Homo sapiens: one gene and its partners. The protein of the gene in region 1 purifies or fractionates together with the protein of each later gene. This does not show direct contact. Each region holds a gene or a part of one and is shown in the gene's direction. Other genes may lie near its edges. The genes, in order: MTX2, TPD52, CEP120, XXYLT1 and RP2.

Evidence for each region.
Region 2: the proteins of MTX2 (region 1) and TPD52 purify together in Homo sapiens (affinity purification with mass spectrometry, with the first as the bait; one large-scale study listed by BioGRID). This does not show direct contact.
Region 3: the proteins of MTX2 (region 1) and CEP120 purify together in Homo sapiens (affinity purification with mass spectrometry; one large-scale study listed by BioGRID and IntAct). This does not show direct contact.
Region 4: the proteins of MTX2 (region 1) and XXYLT1 purify together in Homo sapiens (co-immunoprecipitation; one large-scale study listed by IntAct). This does not show direct contact.
Region 5: the proteins of MTX2 (region 1) and RP2 purify together in Homo sapiens (co-immunoprecipitation; one large-scale study listed by IntAct). This does not show direct contact.

Annotation. Positions count from the first base shown.
Region 1 is NC_000002.12:176,319,749-176,326,387, forward strand, and holds part of MTX2 (metaxin-2), read left to right. Parts: intron 1-3,643; coding exon 3,644-3,716; intron 3,717-6,639. UniProt on the Homo sapiens protein: Involved in transport of proteins into the mitochondrion.
Region 2 is NC_000008.11:80,037,443-80,044,081, reverse strand, and holds part of TPD52 (tumor protein D52), read left to right. Parts: intron 1-1,413; coding exon 1,414-1,462; intron 1,463-5,846; coding exon 5,847-5,966; 3' UTR 5,967-6,639. Other genes in the region: TPD52-MRPS28 protein, read left to right, coding at 1,414-1,462.
Region 3 is NC_000005.10:123,347,398-123,353,542, reverse strand, and holds part of CEP120 (centrosomal protein of 120 kDa), read left to right. Parts: intron 1-3,453; coding exon 3,454-3,599; intron 3,600-6,145. UniProt on the Homo sapiens protein: Plays a role in the microtubule-dependent coupling of the nucleus and the centrosome.
Region 4 is NC_000003.12:195,066,470-195,071,796, reverse strand, and holds the end of XXYLT1 (xyloside xylosyltransferase 1), read left to right. Parts: intron 1-1,685; coding exon 1,686-2,082; 3' UTR 2,083-3,513; downstream 3,514-5,327. UniProt on the Homo sapiens protein: Alpha-1,3-xylosyltransferase, which elongates the O-linked xylose-glucose disaccharide attached to EGF-like repeats in the extracellular domain of target proteins by catalyzing the addition of the second xylose.
Region 5 is NC_000023.11:46,845,675-46,852,313, forward strand, and holds part of RP2 (protein XRP2), read left to right. Parts: intron 1-6,639. UniProt on the Homo sapiens protein: Acts as a GTPase-activating protein (GAP) involved in trafficking between the Golgi and the ciliary membrane.

The DNA of each region.
Region 1 (6,639 bases):
TATTGTTAGTAGAGTCAGGGTTTCACCATGTTGGCCAGGCTGGTCTCAAACTCCTGAGCTTGTGATCCACCTGCCTTGGCCTCCCAAAGTGCTGCGATTATAGGCATGAGCCAAAAATTTTTAAAAATTTTTGTAGAGAGAAGCTCTCACTATGTTTCCCAGGCTGGTCGTGAACTCTTGGCCTCAAGCAATGCTCCCTCCTCGGCCTCTGGAAGCACTGGGACTGGCCTGTTTTTGCATTTTTAAAGTTTGGATGAAAATGCTTTGTGACATCAAACTTTTTTGTGAACTACAGATTAATTGACTAACTAGAATTATGCTATCAGTTGAGGTCTGTAGTAAGTTGAGTGTCATTTAATTGGTAAAATTGTCAGTTAGTTTTTATAAAAAAATAAAAAGCATGGGACTAAGAAGCATGGGTTTTGGGAGTTGAAGGTTGCATTGAGCTGAGATTGTGCCACTGCACTCCAGCCTGGGCGACAGAGTGAAATTGTGTCTCAAAAAAAAAAGAAGCATAGGTTTGATTGCAGAACATTACAATTCTGCTTTTATTTTAAGTGAAATACAGCATTTTGGAATATTAATTAGCATAGTTACCACTACGCATGTAGTTTAGCAAAATATACTATATTTACTATTTTATACAATATTATTATTAACAGTTGAATATTATTCAGGCCTTTGAGAAGATATATTAAACAGTTATTTCAAACTCTTTTTTGTTCTACTGAAGGCCTCAATCCCTTCTTAGTTTTTCATTCTCAGCAAAAGATTTCTCCTTCTATTTCGTAAAATATGAGCACTCACATTCTTGTTCTTTCTTATCAACTTTCAGTCATCATCACTGATTCCCCACCACCTCTTGCATTACAGTGGAAAAAGTGTCCTGTTCTGACAAAAACAGATCTCTCCAGCTAAGGTCTTACTTCCTCCCTTTTTACTTATTCTTTTTTTTTTTTTTTTTGAGACAGGGTCTTGTTGTATTGCCCAGGCTGGAGTGCAGTGGTGTGATCATGGCTTACTGCAGCCTTGACCTCCCAGGTTCAAGCAATCTTCCCACCTCAGCCTCTTGAGTAGCTGAGACTAAAGGTGTGCACCACCATGCCCAGCTAATTCTTTAAACTCTTTTGTAGGAATGGGTTCTCCCTATGTTTTCTAAGCTGGTCTTGAACTCCTGGCCTCAAGTGGTCCTTTTGCCTTGGCCTCCTCAAAAGTGCTGAGATTACAGGTGTGAGCCACTGCTTCTGGCCACATGGATCTTGTATATCAGTTATTTCACTTGTTTTATGTAATTTCAGCCTATCTCCATTATTTTTTTTCTCTTTGTGTTTTAATAAGCTCCACTCTTCTTCATATGTAATAGAAGGGAGGCAACTCTTCTCCTCCCTTCTTCCTTGTTTTCAGATCCAGGCTTTTTGAAAGAACTGTTTATATTCATTTTCTCTAATTCTTTCCATGCAAGCCATGCTTTGACATGATTTTGATGCATGCTGAAGTTTGAGAATCACCACCCTACCCTATCTTTGTGGGTCAGTCAGGAAGCTCACTATTATTGCTATGAATTGGAATCACTGGTTATAGGTTTTAAAGGACCGTTAGTTTCCACTTAAATAGACACAGAAGAATCAACTTCTGGTGGGGCAGGATGGTGTTTAAACTTAGAAATCATAACTGTAGGTGAATTAATTAAGATTGGATTTGGCAGTGAGTGACAGAAACCCAATATAGTGGTAGCTTAAAAAGGTAGTTCACTTCTCGGACAAACACGGGTAATCCAGGTTTGGTGACTACATGATTATCAAGAACCTGGGCCCCTTTACTCTTGTTGCTCTACCATTTCTAACACTCAGCTGCTACTTCATGGTTCTGTTTGGCTGCTATAGCTATAGCCATCCTTTTTACATTCTAGTCAACAGGGAGGAAAAAGAGGAGATACTTTCTCCTTTTAAAGAAACTTCCCAGCAGTTGTCCAGAACTTTTAGTCCAGTTGGCCATACCCAGTTGTAAGGGAGCCCGGAAAATAAGTTTTTATTTTAGGCAGCCTTGTGTGCAGATAGTTTCTACCACTGTAGGGAAAGGAGAGAACATATGTGGCAGGGATAACAGCCTCTACCAGGATAAGCTCTTGGGAGCTTTGAATGGCTCAATCAGTAAACAATATTGCTTATTATAAGTAGTGCACTATGAAAGATGAATTGTGGGAAAATGAGGGAGATTGGGGGAAGGAGAACAGAATTGAAAAAAAAAATTAAAAATCTCCCCCTTGCTTTTCTAAGAGATGCCATTTACTTGAGGAGATCAGACATGCATACATAAGTTACAGAGCAATGTAAGAATCAGAGGATGCAATTAGTGGGGGAATCAGACTCACGTGGGATTTATTTTTGGAGGCAGGCATCTCTAAAGGACTGGAGTTTTGAGAAAACAGAAGAGAATTGACATACTTTTGGGTAAATGGAGTTCTTTGTACAAGATATTAATCACTGTTTTGTACCCTTAACACTTAAGAGTCTTAACACTTATTTCTAATGTAGAGTTGAGGAAGGAATTATAATAAACCTATGAGAAATCTCTGTTGAGTAAAATGATAAATAATATCCTTGTTAATTTATTAATTTATCTTATCTTACTTTTGACAGCTATTTATAGTACTTTCAATTTCAAAATAGACAAAAGGTTTGTCTTCCAATTTGTATGTGGTAATTAGAACCATTGTAACTTATGACCTCCCCAATTGAATAACTGAATTATTTTATAGAAATAACATAGTAAATTTTGTGAATAGAGAAAAAGAAGCCAAGAAGTCATAGAAGAGAGAACAAGGGGAGTGGACTTTGAGTATTGTAAAAAACAGTGGGTTTGGCAGAGTTCACTGGTGTCTTAAAAACATTTAAAAATGAATTAGTGTGATCTAGTAATAGAGTTTTGCATTTTTTTACTTAATATTATAATGTGTACATTTTTTCTTGATGTAAAATTTTTTCTAAAGCATGAGTTTTAAAATTGATTGTGTATAGCATTCCATAGTTTGGATTTACTATAATGATTTACCCCATACCCTTATTATTAGACATTTAAATTGCTTATAACATTTTTGTAACTATGAGCAAAGATAAACAATTTAAGTCTTTAAAAAGTGAATTCGTGAGCACAGAAACTACATGTTGGAATATAGGGTATTACTGGAGAGAACTTTGAGGTAGCAGAGATAGTATTTTGAGTTTTCCTCTAAAATGAGGAAGATGATGATCCTATAGAAAATAGTGGAATGAAGCAATTAATAGCTTATAAAATTTGGACTTTAGTCATCTACTTAAGAAAATTAAAGCTATATATATAGTATTGCTGGTTTACATAAACTAATACAGTAACATAAATGTGGATAATTTACATTTTATTCCTTAGGTATACATACATACTTTAAGTTTCATGTATTTACTGATGTCTAAATCATACTGATTTTTAAGTAGTGACATGACATTTTTGTTTGGAAAACAAATCCTTCACTTTAAATTGGTTCATTGTTTTCTATTAGAGTTTTGTAGTATGAAACTATTCAGTTTAGAAAAGAAATGCATACAAATTTCTGTTCAAATATGCATATGCTTTTTACTGGGCTTATTGTATGTATCTTGATTTACAGGCCTTTTTGCAAATGTGTAACTTGCCTATCAAAGTAGTTTGTAGGGCAAATGCAGAATATATGTCTCCATCTGGTAAGTGTGTTTTTTTTTCTTCTCTGTTAATATTATGGAGTGATAAAATTATAGTGATAGTCCAGTTTGTATCTACATGTTAAAATGCCTGATTTTTTTTGTTTACCCTTTGAAGAATCTTTCCATGGTTTTAGAAAGTAACAATTGCAAATTTGACAATCTTGGGGTTGGCATATCTATTCATTTCAACTGTGATCAGAGATGGTTACTGACGTGTGGAAATGGTTTTAATAGTAAGGGAATTGTTTTAAATAGTAAATGTTAAGGAAATACATGATCTCAGATTTCCCTAGTCTTAATGTACATAAGACTTTCCTGTTGAGAAAACAAATTTTAGTAATAATGAATCCATTTATTATTCCACACATCTTTCTTAATTATATTCTCCCATAATACAGCTGGAAGAAGAGAGATTGTAGAAAAATTAATTTGTCGTTAGATCTTGAAGTCATCACTGAATGTTTTTGGTTTCTAATTATTTTTTCTAATGCTTAATTTTAACAGGTTTTGAGATGCTTTAGCTTCCTATTTTTTAAAATCAGTATTATCTTTATGTCAGTAGATTAAATTACTGTTTTAAATAAATAATTCAAAATTTTTAATATAAAAATGTGCTACAAAGCTGATAAATAAATGTTATATATAATTATCATGGATGATTATTGTAATTATGGTTTTGTTGGAGCAATAATACGTAGAATTACTCCTTTTTGAATAAATTATTAAGTATAACTGATTGGTATAAGTGTGTAACATTGCTTTTTAGGGAGACATTTTTCATTTTGATATGATAATTTAGGAGTGACTTGTGTTAAATTTTTTTTTTCCACCTTAAGTTTTTAAGGGTGGTAGAAATTGTTAAAAGGTATGAAGACACCCCTTCTGTACATAATGTTCTTTTATATAAATACCTGGTTTTAGAGGTTTATGAATATACATTTAGAAAACATTTCCATAAAATAATTTCTAGGCTTGTAAATGTAAACATATTTTAGATTCTTGGAGGGCATTCATTGACTCATTTTTGTGTTGGTTTTATACGTAGATTTTAGGAACTACAGAGTTCTGGTGAAATAAGTTATGTTGTGTTTTGTCCATCCTTTTCCTCTATGTAGTCATACAAACAGTTTGTATATTTATGTAAAAAGGTTAGAAGGTTAGTAATCTAATGCTAAAGTTCAGATCTTTGGCAAGTGAGATATCAATATAGTTTATCTACCTGTTTCCTAAAATTACTATACTTAGTGTCATTTAGGTAGATACCTATTTTCTTTTTATTAGATTGCGCGAAAGACAAACATAAATATTCTAGAGACATACAAAAATATACATTCTTTCATAGGAGTCTCCTATAGGTAGATGAAAATGGCACTTTCTACTAAGATATTTAAACTTTATCATATCTCAGATTGGTATTCTCTTTCATTTAATGATTTGAGGTGATAGGGAAATGTTTTTTATTGTATTTGCTTCTTTGATCTTGCGGTAGATTTTTAAAGCAGAGAGCATGGACTAGTCAGAAGACCAGTTGACTTAAACTCTTATTTCCTAAAGAGTTAGGAAATCTTTAACTAATCCTTCTGTGACTTTGTCACATATTAACTATTTCCTTGAGAAATTTCACTTCTCTGAGCCTCAGTGACTTCATCTGTAATATAAGGTAGCCGGATTAGATGACATCCAAGGTCCTATTTCTTGCATTCTTTGAATCTGCCAACTTGTTTGGCAACATATTCTTGCTTTCTTTAGAATAAAAATTTTAAAAGTGATTATTCTGTCTAAGACGGTAAACAAAGCCCTCAGTTTTCTTATATGACCTTTGATTCGCACCAGAAAATAACTGTCTTACTGTGTTTTTGCCTGATACCTGCAATAATAAGGATATAACATTGGCTCCATTTTCATTAAGCAGGCTAGTGACAGAAAACATTATTCACTTCTAATTTGTTGTGTTTGTTTTTATATATCTCTTTATATTTAGAGATATATAAGATTAATACTCAGTTGACTATCCACACTTCTTTTTGCTTCAGAATTGACAACGCTCAATGTATTTTTAAGAAAAGAAAAAAAATACAAACCCTTTTTTCCAAGAACCTGAAACTGGTCATTAAAAACAAGGAATATGCTTTGCTCTAAAAATATTATACCCCCAAATACTGTTTGTCTAGGTACTAAATAGTTTTCATTCTCAGATCATTTGATCTCAGGGGACCTGTAATAATTCTGGTAGTATAGTAGTTACAAAGATTTTATCCCGAGTTAAGAAAACAATGTGGCCTAATGCTTAACCAGATAAAAAAATTTTTTTTTGCAAGATTTATAAAGCAGTAGAAGGAAGGAATGCAGAATTGGCAACAGGGAAATATCTTCTCAATACATCTATTGAGTTGTTGTGTTCCAAAAGGCCTGCCTTTTCTTTGTAATGCATGTTGTCCTATGGATGCAGTTGAAGCTTTTGTTAGGCCTCTGTACTTCATCCATTACCCCCAGGCTGACGGAGCCAGAGAGGAGTGAATCTATTGAAAAGGAACAGGAAGAAGCCTGCTGTTAGTGTGAACTCTATTTGAACTAGGTGTGACAGCAGGTTTCATTCTTTAGCATTTGGAGTAGACCCTTCTTGCTATTTGGAGATTATTTTGTTCTCTCATCTCTAATAATTCCAAGTATTAGTATTTGTTAAAGTGAAATATTTCTTTTTTAATGTGACATTTATCTATAGAAGCTAGTTTTTATAAACATACTATTATTTTTTCCCACATGTTGGGAACATACTCTGTATTACAACTCACCAACTAGCATGCCTTCAAAGATTGTTAATTCTTTTAATTCTTGCTATTTTGAGTTAAAGAGATTTATTGATATACAATTACTTGCTTAAAATGTTGATCTCAATGGGTATCAAAGACTTAAAAGATGTAAA
Region 2 (6,639 bases), on another chromosome or scaffold:
GGAACTAGAATTCCCCTTGAAACAAGCTGTGTGTTTAACACTCTATCAGTTTTCAGCTACACTTCCTCTGATGTTGGGATGGGTGCAAGAGATCCGTTAAATGTTTTGATTTTGTTTTTAAAAAAATTATTTCTATTTTATTTTGTAAAACCTTTGTTTCCTGTCTGAAATCTGTTCACAAAGTGAGCACTACTTGTTAACAAACCTTCTTTTGTCCCGCCACCTCTGTCTGCATTCGCTTTAGTTACATTCTCCTTTTCTTCATCCTTCCCATTTTCACTTCCCCCATCCCACTGTGACATTTGGAGCCAACTATGATTTAATTCTACTATCTGCTTTCATTAGCACTTGCAAGTGATATTACCTCACCTAACCTCTCTAGAGAGTTAGAGGATTTTTAACAATCTGTGCTTGGCTTAAACTTAAGTGTCCATCAAAATCACTTGGAGTGCTTGTGAAACCGCTGCTTGCTGGGCCCCACCTCTAGAGCCTCTGATCCTGTAGAGTTGGGGTGGGACCTGAAAATTGGCATTGCTTATGACTTCCTGATAGCTGCAGCAGCAGCTGGTCTGGGGCCCACACTTTGAGAGCTGTTGGCTTAACTGTTCTGCCATCACCACCGTGGGAAGGAAGAAACCCCTTTTCCTTTCTTTGCATTTTTCATCTTGGTAGTAGGAAGGATATTCAAGGTCAGTTGGATAGGATAACAGCATTGGAAACCCTGTTTCCAAAGCGCCTTTGTGAGAGACAAAGGCGCTATGATCCTCCTTAATTAATATGGATAGATGTGAATGTAACATGGATGAATGAATGTCCTGTGGGCTCAGCGTGCTCTCCTCATCCTTTGGGACAGAGTTGTGAAGTAGGCAAAGCCGTTTCTATGCTTCTCCCCCTTCTTTTTGGTCCCTGCTTTCCCAGTCTATTATGCTGCTCCCTGATATTGAACCTCATAAGCTTGTCCCACTTAGGTGATGTGTGTTCATGTAGAAATTCTGCCAGGGAAGATGTGAATCAAAATAGGGATTTTAGAGCGTAGTACCTTAACCAAAATTAAACTGATCTAATGGTGGCATTTTCTTGTACCATGACAAGTTGGTTGGGGAAGTGACAGAATTGCTATTTTACCCGGCTTCGTTACCTCTCCTTACACACGTACTTGACCATATCTATATTACTTATGTCTGAGACTGGCCCTGTTCATGGAATCAAATGCATACTCTTAAAATATTAGATCAGAAATTGAGAATCTTACATTATAAATACTTGTATGTACCTGCACATATATGGTACAGATTATATCTGTTCTTTTGCCGATTGAGAATAATGTTGAAGAGGAATCAATTATATTTTCAAACTAGTTGGATTTTTTTTCAGTATTTGTATTTACTATTTGTTTTTCTTTTCTCTCCATAGAAACTCCCCAACTTTTAAATCATTTGAAGAAAAGGTCGAAAACTTAAAGGCAAGTAGAGAGATGAACAGGGTCTTTTTGATACATTGCCTGGTGTCTTAATTAACTTTGCTGTGCGAAAATCATTGACATTAATATTTCTTTCTAAAAATATCTAAAGAATGTAAATAACTTTACTCCTTATGTTACTAGTGGACATTTAAGGTGTTATGTACTTAATATCTTTTTAGTGTATGCTGTAGTGTGGCAGCATGCCACATGCTGAAAGGAAATGTACAATTTACAAAGAAATGGCACTTTAGAAATTTGTGCTGCTTTTTGCTTTATTCATTTCAAGTACCTTTGTAGGTGGACAAAATTTAATATAACTTTCTTGTCAACAATTAACAAGAATATAGGAAGCACAAGAAAGAAAACAAAAAATTGGTCCTACCACTCAGACAGTGATAGATGTATGTGCTATTATGCTGTTACGCTTTAAAAAAGAAGTAGCCATACATCATAATCATTTTCCTGTATCAGTAAGTATTCTCTTTCAATATTATGTGCAATGGCTGCTTGTATATTACTTTTTTTTTTTTTGAGATGGAGTCTCACTCTGTTGCCCAGGCTGGAGTGCAGTGGCGTGATCTTGGCTCACTGCAACCTCCACTTCCTGGGTTCAAGCGATTCTCCTGCCTCAGCCTCCCGAGTAGCTGGGACTACAGGCGCGTGCCACCACACCCGGCTAATTTTTTGTATTTTTAGTAGAGATGGGGTTTCACTGTGTCAGCCAGAATGGTCTCCATCTCCTGACCTCGTGATCCGCCCGCCTCGGCCTCCCAAAGTGCTGGGATTACAGGTGTGAGCCACCATGCCTGGCCTGTATTACCTTATAATGGATATTATTTGTTCAGTCCTCAATTGTTGGACATTTTTTTTATTATAATGATGCCATGATGATCGTTTATGATTCACTGTTTTTATTTTTTGATTTCTTTGATTTTAGTGGAGGTGAACATTTCCCCATAATAATGAGCTTTATTGATTTGTAAATTATATTATCTTTGAGATTATATTCAAAGCTATAAAATCATCAACTCTTAGGATCACAGGCAACCTCAAAAGTTGTCTAGTTCCCATCTATTCCTCGACCCTCTCTACGGAGTTTGTATAAAACCCATATTTTCATTACTTCCTAACTCTGATAATTATAGGGGATATATTTTAAGGATTAAAACTAGTATCTTAAATGTTTTTATATCAGTCAGTTTAAAAACTAATATTCAGTTTAGTCTTTCAGAACTTTGAGTCACGAAATGCATCTTTAAAAGCAGGGTACATTTATTGAAATAAAACACTCTACAGTGATCTGGATCTTTTTTTAATTTATTTTTTTATTATACTTTTAAGTTCTGGGATACATGTGCAGAATGTGCAGGCTTGTTACATAGGTATACACGTGCCACGGTGGTTTACTGCACCCATCAACCTGTCATCTACATTAGGTATTTCTCCTAATGCTATCCCTCCCCTACCATCCCACCCCCTGACAGGCGCCTTGGTGTGTGATGTTTGGATCGTTTTTTTTCTTGAACATACAAACGTTAGTACATACCTTTTCTGTTTGTATGCAGACATATGAATGTTTTTTCAGAAGAGGAGTTACACTGTACACACACAGTCCTACAGCTTATTCATTCAGCCCTCACTAGCAGGGTGCTTTGTGAGCCATAAATGCAGGGACCTGTTCTTTTTGGTCACTGATACTTCTCAAAGGCTTAGAACAGTTCTTGGCACATTGCTCAATATGCATCTGATGAGTAACAATATATATAAGAGTCATTCTTCTATGTCATTTCAAGAGACCTGCTTTATTTTTCTTAGTGCCAAGTCATATATTTGAAAGCAAACTGTAGTTGCAGGAAGTCAAGGATTACTAAAATTCAGTTCTCAATATTGTTAGGACTGTTATAGCCTTTCCTTGAAATCTGCCCCAAGTGTTAATTTTTGAAATGGCAAATTGGAAAACCAGGAATCTTATGTGTTTTTGACATTGGACATGAGGAGAAACTTCCAGGTCATTCACTATATACTCTCCTGAATATATTTAGATTCTATAAATTGTAATGAAGTCTGCTTTAAAATATGACTAGGCACCATTCAGATTAAAAAGTGTAATTTAAAAACATACAATATGTTGGCTGGGCGCAGTGGCTTACACCTGTAATTCCAGCACTTTGTGAGGCCAAGGCAGGCAGATCACTTGAGTCCAGGAATTTGAGACCAGCCTGGGAAACATGGCAAAACCCTGTCTCTACCAAAAACGATAGAAAAATTAGCTGATGTGTTGGCATACACCTGTAGTCCCACCTACTCGGGAGGCTGAGGTAGGAAGATCGCTTGAGCCCGGGAGGCAGAGTGAGCAGCGATTATGCCACTGCACTCCAGCCTGGGTGACAGAGCCAGACCCTGTCTCAAAAAAAAAAAAAAAAAAAAAAAAAAAGGATAGCGTATTAAACAGATACCCCAAGTATCCTAAGGAAGCTGTAAAATTACATGCTGGGGATATAATTTTGTTAAATTACATTTATATTTAATTAAACATGAGGTCCATTTAGATTTTGGGTTGATTCATTCATCTGTGATTACTGAGCATTTGCCATGTGCCAGTCAATCAGTATTAGGCACCAGAGTTACCACAGTGAGCAAGAGAGACATGGACCCCTTCTGCAAGATGCCTAGACAATTAAATGGCCAATGAAACTAAAGTGAGGTAAGGGTTCTGATGTGAAAAGCTGAGGGTGTGATGAGGACAAGTGGCAGAAAGTTCACCTGGCTTGGTGGAAGGGAAGGTCAGAGAAGACCTCTTAGAGGACTCAGTAATGTCCATTGAGGATTTTAGGTTGAAGGGAATGTTTGAAGTTTGAGGGCCCTTTTGAGGACCACCAAGAACTTCACTGTGCTGTAGGATATTGAGCAGGAGGTGAAGCTAGAGAGATGTGTAGGCCACATTGCAGAGTTTGAACTTGGGGCAATGGGAAGCCATTGAAGGGTTTTAAACAACCCAAGTGGTGCATTCTTCTGTAAATGTTAGAGAGATCAGTGGCTGCCCTGCACATCAAAGGGGAGAACGATTGGAGACAGGCAGATTAGATGGAAGGACGGAGTTGTACTCCAAGCCAAAGATGATGGAGAGTGAATTAAGTTAGTGCAATGGGACCAAGTCTAGAGCTATTTAGAAGTGAGAAGTGACACGGAAAAAAAAAAAGATTGATTGGATGTAGAACAAGTTGGATAAGAATCCAGGACAACCCCAGGTGTCAGGCTGGGGCAGCTAGGTAGGTGCTATTGCCATATAAAGTGTTAAAAAAGAATAGAGAAGGGGCTAGTTGTCGGGGGAAGGAGTTCAGTTTTAGACATGTTGAACTGCAAGGAGATTTGATACTATAATTAAGGAATGTGTTTTAATAAATTTAATAAACAATGAACACACATTATTCGCATTTCCCAAACAATTTGGATGGTAGATCAAAAAGAATGAGAGTGAAAATAAGGGGTCTGTGACCACTCAATTAAGATTGAGCTAAGAGCAAGGTCAAGTTCAAACCCACTATAAGCTTCTTGCATCCATGGTCACTGACTGTTTTCTTACTGTTAGCTGTCCTGTTGGACAGTGTAACAGTGAGAGAGCATATACAGATTAGCATTGAAAAGGATAAAGTGACATGTGTAAGGGTTTTGAAAAAGTATTATACAAATGCAAGGCAGATATATTGAAATAAATGCTTATTGGCAAAATTTCAGGCCAGATAGGTTGGAGTAGTGCTTCACAAACTATAATGTGCACATGAACAACTCAGGGATTTTGTTCAAGTGTTGATTTCAATTCTGTAGCTGGAGTTGGGTGGGGTAGAAAGGATATCTGAGATCCTGCATTTCTAATAAGCTCCCAGGTAATGTTGAGTCTGTAGGTCCTTGAACCACACTTTAAGTATTAAAGGGTTAGAAAGCTTATACTGTAACTGAGAAAAAAACATATATTTCTTTCCCATGTTGTATTCAATATTTCTTGAATGAGTGTAGCTAAATGAGCAATTCGATGCAATACAAAATGTTATGCAAGTGTAGAGACAGACAGTTCACTAGGTACTTTAAAATAATAGACCTTACAAAGTTTTCTAGACAGACTTCCTGTGAAGAACAAGGAGCAGGGGGAAAGGGGAAGGGGTAGAATTTACCAATCTGAATATTTCAGCAAGGGAGAATGCATGAGTTTTACTATAAAACCACACTGAACATTGCAACAATACTAAATTCCATACATATATAATAATCACTGAGCTATAAGGTTGCTGATGTATTTGTTCTTGAAAGTGAATTAGAGTTACTTTATGCAGAATCAGCTAGTTTTATGTTTCATAATGTCTTTCCCTTTTTTGAACTTTTTTTTAAGTCTAAAGTAGGGGGAACCAAGCCTGCTGGTGGTGATTTTGGAGAAGTCTTGAATTCGGCTGCAAATGCTAGTGCCACCACCACGGAGCCTCTTCCAGAAAAGACACAGGAGAGCCTGTGAGATTCCTACCTTTGTTCTGCTACCCACTGCCAGATGCTGCAAGCGAGGTCCAAGCACATCTTGTCAACATGCATTGCCATGAATTTCTACCAGATGTGCTTTTATTTAGCTTTACATATTCCTTTGACCAAATAGTTTGTGGGTTAAACAAAATGAAAATATCTTCACCTCTATTCTTGGGAAACACCCTTTAGTGTACATTTATGTTCCTTTATTTAGGAAACACCATTATAAAAACACTTATAGTAAATGGGGACATTCACTATAATGATCTAAGAAGCTACAGATTGTCATAGTTGTTTTCCTGCTTTACAAAATTGCTCCAGATCTGGAATGCCAGTTTGACCTTTGTCTTCTATAATATTTCCTTTTTTTCCCCTCTTTGAATCTCTGTATATTTGATTCTTAACTAAAATTGTTCTCTTAAATATTCTGAATCCTGGTAATTAAAAGTTTGGGTGTATTTTCTTTACCTCCAAGGAAAGAACTACTAGCTACAAAAAATATTTTGGAATAAGCATTGTTTTGGTATAAGGTACATATTTTGGTTGAAGACACCAGACTGAAGTAAACAGCTGTGCATCCAATTTATTATAGTTTTGTAAGTAACAATATGTAATCAAACTTCTAGGTGACTTGAGAGTGGAACCTCCTATATCATTATTTAGCACCG
Region 3 (6,145 bases), on another chromosome or scaffold:
AATGGGAAGTGAAAAATGCTTACTTTTTTTTTAATGAGACTAGCATAACCTTGATCCTAAAAGCTTACAAGGACAAAATTAATTGGCCAGTCTTTTAAAACATTAAAGATACAAGTTTAAGATATTAAACTTGTAAGCATCACAACGAAGTTTATTTACTAAACAAATGCAAGCTTGGTTATTTACCACATTCAAAGATTAAAGGAGAAAAAAATCATATCAATAGCTGCAGAAAAAGTCATATTCATTAACAAACTAAGACTAGACAGGAAATTTGTTAATCTAATAAAGAGTTTTTACATAAAGCCTACAAAAAACATTCTTAAAATAATGGAACTTTCTTCTGAGATCAGAAATGAGAGAAACCTTCCCTCTATTACCGTTTCTTTTCAACATTGTATTAGAGGTGTTCTAGCCAGTGTAATAGGGCAAGAAAAAGAAATACTGTATCATTTGGAAAGGAAAAAATAAAACTACCCTTATTTGCAGATAACACAGATGTATTTAGAGAGCTAAAAAGTATCTACATTGACCTATTAGGAATAAGTGAGTTTAGCAAGTTTGCTGGAAACAAAGTCAGTGTGTAAAAATCAATGTTATTTGTCTACTAGAGGCAATTAGGAAGTGAAAATTGTAAAGCTCTACCATCTAAAATATAATCAAAGAAATATGTTAGTCTTAGCATATAGAGAACTATAAACTATTATCAAAAGACCTACATAATTAGGTAAACCATTCCATTGATTGAAAAATCAGTATTTTAAAGACACTGGTTTTGGCCAAATTGATCTGTGGATTCAATATAATCATCATAAAATCTCAGCAGGTTTTTTTTAGCCTTAGAAATGGAAATTTATGTGAAAATGTAAGAGCCAAGAATAGCTAAAATCATTTTGAAGAATAAGCAAATGTAGAAGAACTGTCGTATATTGAGACATTGTTACAAGAGTTACAGTAATTAAAACAGTGTAGTGTTAATGTAAGGATAAATAGATCAGTTTAGAGCATCCAGAAACAAAAACATACATATATGGACAGAGGTGATATGTGACAGGTGATAACTGCCAAGCAACAAGAGAAGAGGTGTTTTTCAATAAATGTTGCTAGGTCAGTTTGAGCTCTACATGGGCAAAAAGTGAAACTTCAAAAGGGTAACATAAAAGAATATCTTCAAGATTGAGACAGGCAAAAAAAATGTCTTAAATAGGAAAGAGCACGGTTAACCAAAAAGGAATAAACAGAAAAATCTGAACTATGTTAAAATTAAGGACTTCTCTTTATTAAAAAACATTAATGGAGTAAAAAGACAGGCCGAAGACTACTGGGAAATAGTTGTAATTTATATAATTGATGAAGGGCTTATCCAGTATTTATAAACATCAATAACAGAAGATGGACAACCAAGTAAAGTACCAAAAGCTTAAATAGGAACTTTATGAACAAAGATACCTAAATGTCATTAAAACTATTGAAACGTGTTCAACCTCACTGGTCTTTGAATAGTGCAAAATAAAATCACAATGAGATACTACTATGTAACCTGTCAAATGGCTAAAATGAAAAAAAATGACATTATGAAGTGTTGGCAAGAATATAAAGCATTGGAATGCTCAAGTGGAAGTATGAATTGATAAGACTACTTTGCAAACTGTTTGGAAATACAGGTTGAACATCCCTAATCGGAAATGCTTCAAAATCTGAACTTTTTGAGCCCTGACAGGACACCACAAGTGGAAAAATCTACACCTGACCCTATGTGACAGTTCACACAGAATTATTTAAAACATTGTGTAAAACGTTATGTAAAATTACTTTCAGGCTGTGTATACAAGGTATATGTGAAACATAAATGAATTTCATGTTTAGATGGTCCCATCCCCAAGATATCTCATTATGTATATGCAAATATTTCAAAATCAAAACACTTATGGCCCCAAGCATTTCAGATAAAGGATACTAAAACCTCTATTTACTAATGCTGTTGTAATTCTTATATCCTCTGACCACGCAATTTGAAGCCTATGTATATATCCAGTAGGAATGCATACAAATGTGTTCCAAAAGACATGTATAAAATCTTCACATCACCATTATTTATAATTCAAAACTGGAAACTGCCCAATGTCCTTCAGCAGTGGAATGAATAAATTGTATATTCATTCAATGGAATGCTGTATAATAATGTAAATGATTAACTACAGAGAACAATGAGTCTCAAAAACAATGTTAAATGAAAGAACCCTGACACAAATACATACTGTATAGATTCTGTGTTAAGTTCAAAACTTATTTTTGTTTTTAAAATTAGGGTAGTAGTTATTGTTGGGAAAAGGTGAATGGTTAGTGACTGGGAGGAGACACAGACTTCTGGGATTCTGGCAGTCTGATCTGGATGGTGGGTATGTGAGTGGTCTACTTTGTGAAAGTATATCAAAATGTACCTTGTCATTTGGCAGTTTTCTGTTTGTTACAATTCAATAAATACTTTAAAAAAATAGTTAACAAAAACCTATTGACTCAGGTCTCCCACTTTGGGATTCTGTCCTAAACAAAAGAAAATGACGTAAGGATTCCTGAGCTAACTGTGTGATAGATGACAAGGTGTCCTATTACAGCATTGTTTGTAGTAGCAAAAGTGTCTGTTATTGAGAAAGTGGTTGAATAAGTCATGGAATATCCATTATGTGGAATGTTACTCATTTATTTTAAAAGACTTTATCTATTGACCTGAAGAATTGTTAAACTTTTTTAAAAATGCAAACTAGAATGTATTGTTTGTTTTCATTTTTGTTTAAGAATATATGTGCATAGGTTTTTGTATGAGTCTGGAGAACAGAGTGGAAAGGCATATTTACTGAAGTAGGAGTGGAATTAGTGATTTGTATAGGGACAGTTATTGAATTTTTCTAGGTACATCTTTGTATAATGTTTTTCTCAGATGCTGCTCTTACCACTAGCCTTTTGGCTGTTCATTGTATTGACAGTTCATTGTATTGATAGCACCCTCTTTCTTGCCTTCAACTTCCGTTGTCCTGTGATAGTCAGCTAATATCAATCACTGATTGAAGGATTATGACTTATAGTAAAAGAGAATAGAGTGTTTAGAGAAAACCTAGCTGGGTATTTCTGGTTAATATATAACTCATAAAATTAGCAGTGCAAGGGTGGGCACACACCTTGGGCCCAGATACTCCTACTTGGGCCCAGAGGCCGAAGCAGGAGGATTGCTTGAACCTAGTAGTCTGTGGCTGTAGTGTGCTTCGTTGCTCCTGTGACTAGCCAGTGCACTCCAGCCTGGGCAACACAGTGAGACTCTGTTAAAAAAAAAAAGAATTGGCAGTGTGTGGCTATATCATGGGTGTTGTCAAATAGGATTATAATCACAAGTCAAAGTCATATAAAATATTTGTTCCTAATATTAAGGATATGACTTGTTTCTTTGTTTCTTTCAAGAGGGAGCAAGAAAGTCAAATGGCTCGTCTTAAAAAACAGCAGGAAGAATTGGAACAGATGAGACTACGTTACCTTGCCGCTGAGGAAAAAGATACAGTAAAAACCGAGCGACAAGAATTGTTGGATATAAGAAATGAATTGAACAGGTATAATAACTAAAAGTGTTTCTTTCAAAAGCCAAAGTTTGGTTCAGGGAAGGTACAACTTGAGGTCTCCCAAGGATAAAGTAGATCATATATAAAAATATATAAAATGTAGCAGACATATACAATAGAAAATCTATGCCAGCTGGGTACTGTGGCGCATGCCTGTAATCCTAGCACTTTGAGAGGATGGTGGGAGGATCGTTTGAGCCCAGGAGTTCCAGGCTGCAGTGAGCTGTGATCATGCCACACTGCACTCCAGCCTGAGTGACAGAGTGAGACCTTGTGTCAAATCTAAAAAGAAAGAAAAAAAGTCTATGCCAAAGACTATTAAACTTTTTTTTTCCTGTGAATACAGCTATGGCAAGTCCATTCAGCTCTTGTGTTTCCATTTATAGCATTACTACTTTAAAATTTATTTTTGTGTGATGATATCAGGATTATTGCTACTATTAAACTGAGTCTTCACTTATATAAAGTATAAGAAATTTCAAATTTTGTTATATTATTAATATCTGTAACAATAGCTCTTAATGAGCTCTTACTTTGTGCCAGGAGCTGTTTTAAATGTCTTATATTGCCCGGCCCTTTTTTTTTAAATCTTCAAAGCTACTTTGTGAGGAAGATATTTTCACCATTTTCAAGATGAAGAGATTGAAGATTAAAGACAGAGCTTAAACATTATTCAAGATCATGTAGCTAGTAAATCATGGAGCCAGAGTTCAGATCCGATTCCAGAGATTGCATTTTAACTACTGTGCTACACTGGGCTTCTCTGTAGTGCTGCGTTCATCTGAATCACAACTTCAAGTGTTTCATGTTAGAAAAGTAATCACTAGGAAGCAGCATAAAAATGAATTCTAGTCTTTTTGGAGGGTGGTTTTGGGGGAAGACTTCTTAGCTTAGTTTATCAAGGGTCTAGTATATTTTTCTTTGAGCAAAGTGCAGTTTTAGTTAACTTGGACTGGTTAAAAAAAAATACCACAGACTGGGTAGATTAAACAGAAGTTTATTTTCTCACAGTACTAGAGGCTAGAAGTCAAAGATCACGGTGCCAGTGTGGTTGGTTTTAGAGACCCACCTTCTCACTGTGTCCTCTCTCTGGTGTCTCTTCTTAGGAGAGCACTAATCCCATGATGAGAGTTCACCCTCATGACCTCATCTAAACCTGATTGTCTCCCAAAGGTCCATTTCCAAATACCATCACATTAGAGGTTAAGGGTTCAACATCTGAATTTGACAGGGACACAGTTCAGAGCCTACACATTACATTTAAAACAGTATCTTATTATATCTCCATGTATGAAGTGGAGAAAAATGTGGTCACTATATTAAGTGGGTTCCTAGCTGAATTAAATAACTATATTTAAAAGATAATTGAAGAAATACCAGTTGCAAAAGGTCAGCTTTAAGGACCGTGCTTAACAGCATTCAATCTGTGGTACTTTTATTCTCATTTATTCAGGAAATATTTATTTGGTATCTACCATGTTGTAGACTTGGAAGATATTACAAATTAATGAATTATAATATCCTTGCCTTCCAAAATATAGCACTTTCTTGGTTCTAGTTTAGCAAATATATATTTAGCTCCTGCTGTTTGCTAAGCACTGTTTTGGTGGGTTAAAGATATCCATGTTGCCTATCAAATTTGTAGATCATATACAATTGAATCTTACTAATGTCTTAATAAATTAGGATTCTGAGAGAACTGAAACCAACAAGATTAAATATATTAGAGACAAAAGCAGAGTCCTCTGTATAAGCTATAAGAAAAATCACTTAAGTGATAGATAAGATATAAAACAGTTCATGTGAAGAAGCCTAGGAGAACTTACGTGGCCTCTAATAATGGTGTGATTTGGCTACCGAAGAGTCAGTGCAGTTAGGGACGTTCATGGAAGTAGTGTTCAGTATTCAGTACTGGTAAATCACCTCTGGGGTGTTCTTACCACTGTGCAACACACTTTAAGGGAAATCAGCTACCTAGAGAGCTTCCAATGGCATGTGACCAGGACAGTAAGGGGCAATATATCATGCCATCCAAGAAGTGGTTAAGAGAGTGAGGGAGTTTGAGACCAGCCTGGAAAACATAATGAAATGTCGTCTCTAAAAACAATATATATATACAAAATTTAGCCGGGTGTGGTGGCATGGCCTATAGTCCCAGCTACTCGAGAGGCTGAGGTGGGCAGATCCATTGAGCCCAGGAGGTCGAGGCTGCAGTGAGTTGTGATCACACCACTGCACTCCAGCCTGGGCGACAGAGTGAGACCTTGTCTCAAACAAACAAAATATACTAAGTATTATTATTACTGCTCCAGTTTCAAGACAGTTTGATCAACAGTATTCTATTGGAAATACCCAAATCGCAGGTCAGCATCTACTCTCCTTTTCTTATCCCCAAATGAGATTATAACAAACATAACTTGAAGATATCCATACAAAACCTTAACATGCATATGCCCTTTGAACTAGGCATATGTAAAGAATTTCACTTTCTACAAATAGAGATACAACTCAACTCCATAATAGTAGGGAATTTTTTT
Region 4 (5,327 bases), on another chromosome or scaffold:
TGGTGCCCTGGTCTGCCTGGTAGAATTTTAGCTGCTTTATAACCTGGTCCTGAAATGAACCACTGGGAAGAAATAGGGTAAAATGAACACACAGCTGCCACACTGCATCCCAACCCTGTGTGACCCTATCACCGCAGACTTTTGTGGCAAGATGACAGCATCTCAGTTTGCTTGAGAAGCTTATTTTTGCCAAGGCTGTTACCACCAGGCAGGCACCAGAGCTCGGTTCCACTCACAGCAGAACACAAGCAGTGGCCCTGTGGATTCCCCTGTAAGAATGTCCGGAGGGAATGCTTCCCCCTCGCCAGGATCAGACTCTTGGCACTCTCTGTGATACGTGAGACCTTGAGGAAGGTTCCTCCGTTCCCAGAAGCGGAGCAATGTGCTGGTGCTGAGAAGTGGCCCCTCAGGGCCACCCTGGGCAGGGTCTCCGGTTTTATTCCCCCGTACCTTCTGCTTCATCACGCAGATCCTATCCTGGGTTTGGGTGGGGAAGTCTCTCTGCGGGGGCCGGTGGGGCAGCATCTCCAGGCTGGGAGGCAGAGCTGGTTCTGCCACGATGTGTCCTCCCCGTGAGGACCCACTCCCACGCCTGTCCCTGCCACAGTGGGCCTCCTGATGGTCCTCCTTCCTCCAGGTCACCGGCACGATTGCTGTGGCCCCTCCTCTGTGGGTGTGGGCTTGGACGCCTCTCCCCTCCACCTGCACACCCCTTGCAGCACACATGAGGCTTAGCTATTAAAGAGGCTGGAGGACAGTGCAGCGCTTTAACCCTGGCCCTCACAGGGAGGTGTCTAGGTCTTTCTTCTCCCCTCCAGATGGAAGCATTTGGGTAGAGGACCTAGAAGAGGCTAACACTCCCTGAACTATGAACCTAGATTGGTTTCTAAATCTGCTGAGAGAAAAATTGAACTTGAAGTGACATTCCTTCTAAAGTAGACATCATCCTACATGGCTCTTCTACAGCTGTCTTTCACCCTAACCCATGGTGTGCCCTGGGCTGTCGCAGGCCCCCAGCCCCTGCCCAGCCTTTCTGAAGTGCCAGGCTTGGGGCTCAATGAATGAGCCTTGTTCTAAAGCAGAAAACAGTTCTGTTCCAGTCAGGGTTCAGCTGCCTGCGTCTTGATGAGATCTCTGTTCAGGATTGTGTCCCCTGCTTCTCTCTCCCTTCTCCTTTTCAAGATCACAGGTGAAGACAAGGGGGTGGAAAGTTCTACCTAGATTGCTGCTATCTTAAGAATGTGGACTTTGGAGCCAGATTGTCTGGGTTTAGTCCCTGCGTCTGCTGCTTACTAGGTGTGTGACTTTGGGCAAATACCTTGACCTCTCTGTGCGTCCGTTTTCTTGGCTGTGAAATGATGTATCATCTCAGAGCACCCATCCCCTGGGGTTGTGTGGGGAGTAAGTAAGCCGGTCTAGTATGGCGCCTGGTACATCCTCAGTCAATAATATCAATGTTGGCTGTGGTGAGGACGTAGCAGAGGATGGTAGAAAGAATCTGAGGCTTGGGGTCCAGAGCCCTGGGTTCAGGTCCCAGCTCTGCCACTTGCTGGTGTAGTGATGCGGATTCTGCACCCCGGAATGTGGCAGTGTTTGCATGCAGGCTGGCTGTGAAGACCCAGGGCAGCAGGCCGGCAGGCTGGTTCCCCTGCACACCGGACTAACTCTGTCCTCTCTCTCCACAGGCACACATTCTGGCAGTTCCGCCATGAGAACCCCCAGACCCGGGTTGGGGGCCCGCCCCCCGAGGGGCTGCCGGGCTTCAACAGCGGGGTGATGTTGCTGAACCTGGAGGCCATGCGCCAGTCCCCGCTCTACAGCCGCCTGCTGGAGCCGGCGCAGGTGCAGCAGCTGGCCGACAAGTACCACTTCCGCGGCCACCTCGGGGACCAGGACTTCTTCACCATGATCGGCATGGAGCACCCCAAGCTCTTCCATGTGCTGGACTGTACCTGGAACCGGCAGCTGTGCACCTGGTGGAGGGACCATGGCTACAGTGACGTCTTCGAGGCCTATTTCAGGTGTGAGGGCCACGTCAAGATCTACCACGGGAACTGCAACACTCCCATCCCGGAGGACTAGGCGCTCCCCGTGCCTTGCCCCCGGGGCCTCCAGATCTGGGGGAAGGACAGGGTTCCTTGGGACAGACCCAAGGGCAGTGTCTGACCCGCTAGAGAGACACCGCAGGGAAGTCCTGTGATTAAGGTGCTGAGACCTCCTGCCGGGCAGGTCACTGTGCTGAGGCCACCCGCCAAGGACTGGCCTGTGCACTGCTGGTGCTTGGGACCTTATTCCTCCAGGGAGCAGGCGACACAAAGGACACGCATGTCCAGTGGGCTGGGAAGCAAGCACTTGAAGAGAAGGAAGGGGAGAAAGGGTCCCCCTTGCTGTCTGCCTCTGAGGAATGGAAATCCTTTAGACCCGGCCTTTTTTGGACCAATATAAATTTAATTTAAATTGACAGCCTTCCATTTTTCGAGAAAGTACAAACAGAACTGCTTTAGCACCCATCGAGCCCCAAACGGGTAAGGTAAGCCAAGGTTTTAATGACCAGCCCAGTATCTAAGCTTCCAAACGAATGCCAGCCCATCACATACTCACCCTGGGAGGCTGCTGCACGCGCATTCTCCTGATGCTCACGTCACTTGGTGTAGGTTTCAGGATCGCCTCTTTGAGGAAGGACTTCAGGACCAACTGGGGCCTGCATAAGAAAACTTATCTCATTATTAGAGTACTCACAGCTTGTATCTCCCAGCTACATCCTAGAACCCCATTGTCCTTTATTCCACCAAACCAGCTCCAGGTGACCAGACTCTACTCAGAAAGCAAATTCGTCATCAAAGAACAGAGACTGGCCACCACAAGGACATGCAGGAGAACTGTCGGGACCAGGAAGACTCATTCCAAAAAGCCCAGGCCGGGCACAGTCGTCAAGCCTGTAATCCCAACACTTTGGGAGACCGAGGTGGGGGTATCGATTGAGCCTCGGAGGTCGAGATCAGCCTGGGAAACACAGGGAGGCCCCCATCGCTACAAAATATTTTAAAAATTAGCCAGGTGTGGTGGCTTGTGCTTGTTGTCCCGGCTACTTGGGAGGCTGAAGTGGGAGGGTGGCTTGAGTCCAGGAGTTCACTGCACTGAGCTGTGATCACACCACTGCACTCCAGCCTGGACGACAGAGTGAGACGTCCATCTCAAAAAAAAAAAAAAAACCAAAAAGGAACCCAGCAATTCCCAAGTGTGACCATGTGGGCTTGGAAGACATGTCACTCATGGGCTAGTAAGCATTCTAGTTTCTTTGTTTAAAAAATCCCCTTATCATACCACGTTAGACCGTAGACCTTAGCAGAAATTAAAGCGTCATTTCTTTTGATGGGGCCTCCTGTACGTAGGCTGCAGACGTGAAAGCCCCAGGGGTCCATTTGTATCAATTTTCATCTTGTTTTGTTTTGATTTCATTTACGTTTTTCTTTTTCCCATGAGTGAGGATAGCCAATAAATCATCTTTGAGAACATGGTGATTCATGTTGTTTGTTCTCTGATCACAGTTTCAGCTGCATGAAGGCTCTGAATCAAGTGTGTACTCAATGCCATTGGAATCCCCACCTCCCCTGATGAAGATGAGTGCTTACAGGAGATCCTAAGGACCAAGGAGAGGGCACATCTGAGAGGGTGTCAGAGAGGGTAGTATTGGCATGTTTGGTTCAAAGCAAGGAATCATTTCATTCTAGGTATTGGCAGGTCCACCTGCACTGGGGAGCAAAAGCATCCCCATTTCTTCTCATCCCTCTTACCCTAGACTGCCCAGTTACATCCTGCCCTGAAGAGGTGGAGCAGATATCTTTCCCAGCCCTCTGCTGTGACAGAATTGGTCTGTTCTCTCACCTACTTGATTTCCTATTTATAGGTAACAATTCTTGAATGCCTGCTGTGCACCAGCCATTGTATTGGGGGATTTATTACGCTATTGATAATGTTTATGAAAACTTCATGAAGGTCATTATGTCTAAAGTCGACTGTAAGAAAATGTGAGAGATGTGGACAGAGTCATATACTATATGTTTATCACATTTTTTATAGTAGAAGAAAATTGGAAGCAACTTAAAATGTGAAAAAGAGGGGCCAGGCGCGGTGGCTCACACATGTAATCCCAGCACTTTCAGAGGCTGAGGCCGGCAGATCTCTTGAGCCCAGGAGTTCAAGACCAGCCTGGGCAACATGGCAAGGCCCAGTGTCTACAACTATACAAAAATTAGCTGGGCATGGTGGTGCACGCCCAGCTATTCAGGAGGCTGAGCTGGGAGGATCACTCAAACCCAGGAGGCAGAGGCTGCAGTGAGCTGAGATCACGACACTACACTCCAGCCTGGGGGACCGGGCAAGACTCTGTCTGTCTTTAAAAAAAAAAAAAAAAAAAAAAAAAAAAGAATGGAATAGGTAGATGAATAATATGCTTCATCCATATAACAGAATACTTGAGGCATTATTCGAAGAATATGTAATGCCTCAGGAAATACTTAGAATGTGCTATTAAATAAAGAATGCAAAATGTAAGATCATATGTTTAATACGATCCTATTTTTAAAATTACATATATGTGTATGTATATCAGTGTACACACGTGTGTATAGATACATACCTACACACACACGTATGTATAAAAAGAGCATCTATTCTGCTGTATTTCAACTTCTAAAAACATAGGTGTTTCAAACACCACATTAAAAAAACAATTATTTCAACGGGAAAAAAGTGAGTTAAAGGCTAAAGAATTTTAGACTCACAATAATAAAGGTATTTTCCCTGCAATCCTTTCTATAATTAAAATGTGTCTATAGCTATGTGTGTATTTTGTTGTTGCAAGAAAAAAACAATAAGCTGGTTGGTCAAAATGGGCAAAGGCCAAACAACATCCCTCATTTACTTTTAAGTAAACCTCTCAGGAGCTTCCCCTCTGTCACCAGTGGCCTCGACCTTCCAACCCCCCAGTGCACAGCAGACTGTCACTGCACAGGCACCCCAGCCCACCCACAGATCACACCCCAGCCCGCTGACAGATCACACCCCAGCCCGCTGACAGGTCCCACCGCAGCCCACCAACAGATCCCACCCCGGCCCGCGGACAGATCACACCCCAGCCCGACAGATCACACTGCAGCCCACCAACAGATCACACCCTGGCCCATAGACAGATCACACCCCAGCCTGCTGACAGATCACCACATAGGCACCCCAGCCCGCCGACGGATCACCACACAGGCAGCCAGCCCACCGACAGATCACTCCACAGCCTGCCGACAGATCACACCCCGGCCCACCGACAGATG
Region 5 (6,639 bases), on another chromosome or scaffold:
CATGGAATCATACAATACGTAACCTTTTGAGTCTGGCTTCTTTCACTTAACCATAATGCATTTAAGATTTATCCATGTTGTTGCATGTATCAAGAGTTTTTTTTTTTGAGATGGGGTCTCACTGTGTCACCCAGGCTGGAATGCAGTGGCACAATCTTGGCGCACTGCAGCCTCAGCCTCCGGGGCTCAAGTGATCTCCCATCTCAGCCTCCCAAGTAGTGGAGACAACAGGCGAGTGCCACCATACTCAGCTAATTTTTTGTATCTTTTTGGTAGAGATGGGGTTTCAACACGTTGCCCAGGCTGGTCTTGCACTCCTGAGCTCAGGTGATCCGCCCACCTTGGCCTCCCAAAGTGCTGGAATTACAGGCATGAACCACCACACCCAGCCGGGAGTTCCTTTTTAATTGCTGAGTGGTATTCCGTTGTATGGATATATCACAGTTTGTTTATCCATTCATCAGTTAAAGGACATTTGGGTTGTTTCCAATTTTGGTAATTATGAATAAAGCTACCATAAATATTTGTGTACAGGTTTTTGAGTGAACATAAGTTTTCATTTCACTTGGGTAAATACTCATGAGTGGGATTGCTGATCATATGGAAATTGTTTATTAAACTTTACAAAAAACTGCCAGGTCAGTGGCTCACACCTGTAATCACAGCACTTTGGGAGGTGAAGGCAGAAGGATCGCTTGAGGCCAGGAGTTCAAGACCCGCTTGGGCAACATAGTGAGACCCCACCTCTACAAAATGGATAAACATAGCCAGGCAGAGTGGCATATGCCTGTAGTCCCAGCTACTTGGGAGGCTGAGACAGGAGGATTGCTTGAGCCCAGGAGTTTGAAGCTGCAGTGAGCTCTGATTGCACCACTGCACTCCAGTGTGGGCAACAGAGCAAGACCCTGTCTCTATAAAAAAAAAATTAATTAAAAATTTAAAAAAGAAACTGCCAAACTATTTTTCAAAGTGGCTATGCCATTTTGCCTACCAGCAGTATATGAGAGATACAGTTGCTCTGCATCCTCACATCACTTGCTTGGTATTGTCAGGTTAATTTGTTTTTAAGAGACAGGGTCTGCTCAGTCTCCCAGGTTGGAGTACAGTGGCATGATCATGGCTCACTGCAGCCTGGACTGCCTGGGCTCCAGCAATCTTCCCACTTCAGCCTCCCAAGTAGCTAGGACTACACTACATGTGTCTGCCACCACACTCGGCTAATATTTTTATTTTTTGTAGAGACAAGGTCTGGCTGTGTTGCTCAGGCTGGTCTGAAACTCCTGGCTTCAAGCGATCGTCCCACCTTGGCCTCCCAAAGTGCTGGCATTACAGCTGTGAGCTACTGCACCTCGCCTAGCTTTAAAAAAAAATGTTTAGCCATTCTAATAGGTGTGTAGTGATGTTTCATTGTAGTTTAACTTGCATTTCCCAAATGACTTGTATTTACCTAAATGTTGAGCATTTTTCATGTACTTATTTGCCATCCATATATCTTTGGTAAAATGTTTATTCAAATCATTTGCCCATTTTTTTATTGGGTTATTTGTTTTCTTATTATTGAGTTTTTCAGAGCTCTTTATATGTCCTGGATACAAGTCCCCTGTTATATATATGTTTTGCAAATACTTTTTTCCCAGTTAATAACTTGCCTTCTCTTAAGAGTGTCTTTTGAAGAGCAAACATTTTCAATTTGAGTAAAAGTCCAATTTCCACTCACTTTTTCTTTTGTGGATTGTGTTTTTGGTTTCACATCTAGGAATTTTTTTTCTTTTTCTGAGACGGAGTCTTGCTGTGTCGCCAGGTTGGAGTACAGTGGCGCGATCTCGGTTCACTGCACTATATGTATATGTATGTATGTATGTATGTATATACACATACACCATATATATGTGTGTATATATATACATACATATACAAAACAATTGCTTACTAGATGCACAAATCAATGGAATAGAGAGTTCATAAACAGGCATATCTCTCTTTACATATATATATCTATATCGATCACACTATATATATGTGTGTGTGTATATATACACACATATATGTGTGTGTGTATATACACACATATGTGTGTGTGTATATACACACATGTGTGTGTGTACATACACACATGTGTGTGTGTATATATATACACACATATATGTGTATATGTGTATATATGTGTGTATATATGTGTATATATGTGTGTGTATATATATACACGCATATATATGCGTATATACATATATATGGACTCATATATGTGTATATACATATATATATATATATATATATATATATGGACTCACAGTGTGTCCTTGGACAAGTTATATAGTCTCTGTGTGCCTCAATTTTCTCAAGTATAAAACAGAGATAATTATAGTACACAACCCTTATGGGGTTTTTATGGATTGAGTGAATGATTATAGAGCACTTAGTATGGTGCCTGGTACATATATAGTGCTTCTTATACTCCTGAATCTTTTTACTTCTATTCAGACTGGATTTTCATTGGAATTAACAAATCCCATTATTTTATCTCACATTATCATTATGGAAATTTAACTGTGGAGATGAATTTTAATGAAAAATTTGTATTGCCGCTTAGTAAGATAATAAGATGTTCATTTTTGTTTTCTGTTAGGAAAATAATGCTTAACTTGGTTTAATAGCTGTAGGACATTAAATTGATATCAGACGAATTACAACTCTTGAAATTTTTCTTTGATTTTTTTTTTTTTTTTTGAGACAGAATTTGGCTCTTGTCTTCCACGCTGCAGTGCAGTGGTGCGATCTCGGCTCACTGCAACTCTGCCTCCTGGGTTCAAGCGATTCTCCTGCCTCAGCCTCCCAAGTAGCTGGAATTACAGGCGCCCACCACCATGCCCAGCTAAGTTTTGTATTTTTAGTAGAGACGGGGTTTCACCATGTTGGCCAGGCTGGTCTGGAACTCCTGACCTCAGGTGATCCACCCGCCTCGGCCTCCCAATGTGCTGGGATTACAGGCGTGAGCCACCACGCCTGGCCACTTTCCTTGATTTTTTAAAGTATATCCATTACCTTTTAAGGATTGTAGTAAGAAATAGTCTAGGCCAGACACGGTGGCGCATGCCTGTAATTCCAGCACTTTGGGAGGCTGAGGTGGGTGGATCGCTTGAGTCCAGGAGTTCGAGACCAGCCTGGACAACATGGCGAAACCCCATCTCTACAGAAAATACAAAAATTAGTTGTGCATGGTGGTGTGCACTTGTAGTCCCAGCTACTCAGGAGACTGAGGCGGGGAGGATTGCTTGAACGGTGGAGGTCGAGGCTGCAGTGAGCTGTGAGTGTGCCACTGCACTCCAACCTGGGCAACAGAGTGAGACCCTGTGTCAGAAAAAAAAAATACAGTCTAAACTAAACTCACTTCATAAGTGGCTCTTAGGAAAAAATAATTTAAAACATGACCTTTCCATGTTTGTGATTCTAGACACTTTATTTCAGAACTAGTAACCTGCAAAATTACGAAGGATTTCAGTTTCAGTTGTTTATTATTACTTTTTTTTTTTTAAAGTGTCAGGGTCTTGCTTTGTCACCCAGGCTGGAGTGCAGTGGCATGATCATGGCTCACTGCAGCCTTGAACTCCCAGGCACAAGCAGTCCTCCTGCCTCAGCCTTCTGAGTAGCTAGGACTACAGGCGCACACCACCATGCCCAGCTAAGGGTTTTTGTGTTTTTTTACCCCCCTTCCACCAACTCACTTCAAATAATCTGCTAAGTTTTAAAAAACTTTTTTAGAGCTAGGGGAGTGTCACTGTGTCACCCAGGCCAGTCTCAAACTCCTAGTCTCACTAGGCCACTGGCCCACTCTCAAGTAGCTGGGATTACAGATGTGAGCCACTGTGTCTAGCTCCTAATGCTTTTTGTTTTGAAAAACTTTCAGGAATTGTTGAGAAAGTACAGCAACATAAATCTTAAATTTCTCCTTGGAAGGCCGTGCTGACAATCCAACTAATTTTATACTACAGAACTATTTAGCTATAAAATCTTTAGCTATCAGATTAATTTCTCCCTATGAGCTAGGAAAAGTGGAGCGTCCAGAGAAAATACTTAGGGTAGTAAATTACATTTAACTCCTCAGCATTGGCAGCTGTTATGGACTGAATGTTTGTCAAATTCATATGTTGAAGCCCTACCCCCCTACACATGGCTGTATTTGGAGATGGGACCTCTAAGGAAGTAATTAAGGTTAAGTGAGGTCATAAAGGTAGAGTGCTGATCTGATAGGATTAGTGTCCTTATAAGAAGATTCAGTTAGCTTGCACTTGCTCCCTCCCTCTCCTTCACACAGAGGACAGGTCTGGTGATGACATAGCAAGAGGTTGGCTTTTGCAGTCTGAGCAGACTAAAACAGGCTGCCATAACAAAATACCACAGACTGGTGGCTTAAATAACAGAAGTTTATTTCTCACAGCTCTAGAGCCTGGGAAGTCCAAGATCAAGGTGCTAGCAGATTCAGTGTCTGGTGAGGGCTCTCTTCCTGGCTTACAGACAGCTGCCTTCTTGCTGTGTCCTCACATGGCCTTTCCTCTGTGATTCATCCTTCTGCCTTACCTCCTACAGCCATTGAATTACCAGTCTGCTGATTCTGTTTCCTCAGTATTTCTCAAATTCATCCCATCTTCTTCTTCCCTACTAATTACAGCTCTGGTTCCAGCCCTTTCTGTATGACTACAATAGTCTCTCCGATCAATCCATGTTGCATGTGTCCTTATCTCATCAGAGTAATTATCCTGACATGTAAATTTTGCTTATTTAAATCTTTCTGTGGTTCCCTCTTGTCTGTGGATAACTTCTAAGCTTTATATAATACGGTTTCTGCCTACCTCTGTAGCTTCATCTACTAGCATTCTGATAGCATGTGTAACACCAAACTACTTTCAGTTTTCCTCCTACTCCCTGAAGAATTTTACTTTGTTCCGTCTGTTACTTTTGCCTGGCATGGGAAGGGAGGGTCCTTTATTCCTACCCCTTTTACCTAATGAGCTCTAGCTTATCCATTCTCATGTTTTGCAGAACTTCCGCCCCACTTCTCTTCCCCGCCCCAGATGTCCCTTCTCTGTCCCCTCCAAAATATTCTCAGCATCTCTCATTACATGGTCAAGTTGTTTTTAGTTTAGATGAATGTTTACTTTTATGGAAAGAGCTGGTCCTATTCATTTTAGTGCCTAAAACAATGTCTGGCTCATACTGGGTATTCAAATATTGGTAGAGTGACTGAACATCCAGAAAGTTAAGGGGATTTTTTCAAGATCCGGTTGCTTATAGGGGACAAAATTGGGACTGGAAAATGAGTACTTCTTTTATTGCCTCATACTGCAGACCAGTGTTCCTCCTAGTACAGCATGTAAAACTGGCTAAGTACAATATCTATTGTGCAATTACTAAGTCAATTTAAGCTCATTTGCTAATCATTAAGATGATTAAATTTTGCTTTGTAAATCAAATTTTTACATATTGTATATATGGGAGCCTATGGTGCATGAATGGTTTTGCATGAAGTTTATATAGTCACAAACAGTTAAAACAGTTGAAGTAGATAAGAAAGTCACATGGAAGAAACAAAAATAGGCTTTTAGTGACCATATTTTGATAGGTCAGGTAAAATAAAAAAAATTAATGTGACATTTTCCAGGCATACTGTTTAAAAGATTATGTGGGCCGGGCTCGGTGGCTCACACCTGTAATCCCAGCACTTTGGGAGGCCAAGGCAGGCAGATCATCCAAGGTCAGGAGTTTAAGACCAGCCCGGCTAACATGGTGAAACCCCATCTCTACTAAAAATACAACATTAGCTGGGCATGGTTGCACACGCCTGTAATCCCAGCTACTCAGGAGGCTGAGGCAGGAGAATCACTTGAACCCGGGAGGTGGAGGTTGCAGTGAGCCAAGATTGCGCCATTGCACTCCAGCCTGGGTGACAAGAGTGAAACTCCATCTCAAAAAAAGAAAAAGGCCGGGCACGGTGGCTCACGCCTGTAATCCCAGCACTTTGGGAGGCCGAGGCAGGTGGATCACAAAGCCAGGAGATCGAGACCATCCTGGCTAACATGGTGAAACCCCATCTGTACTAAAAATACAAAAACAGGGGCCAGGCGTGGTGGCTCACGCCTGTAATCCCAGCATTTTGGGAGGCTGAGGCGGGCAGATCACGAGGTCAGGAGATCAAGACCATCCTGGGTAACACAGTGAAACCCCATCTCTACTAAAAAATACAAAAAATTAGCCAGGCATGGTGGCGGGTGCCTGTAGTCCCAGCAACTCGGGAGGCTGAGACAGGAGAGAGCCGAGTTCATGCCACTGCACTCCAGCCTGGGCAACAGGGCGAGACTCCATCTCAGAAAAAAAAATACAAAAACAAAATTAGCCGGGTGTGGTGGCAGGCACCTGTGGTCCCAGCTACTTGGGAGGCTGAGGCGGAGAATGGCCTGAACCCAGGAGGTGGAGCTTGCAGTGAGCTGAGATTGCGCCATTGCATTCCAGCCTGGGCGACAGAGCGAGACTCCGTCTCGAAAGAGAGAGAGAGAAAGGAGGGAGGGAAGGAAGGGAAGGAAGAGAGGAAGGGAGGGAGGGAGGAAGGAAGGAAGGAAGTAGCGAAGGAAGAAAGGAGCGAAAGAA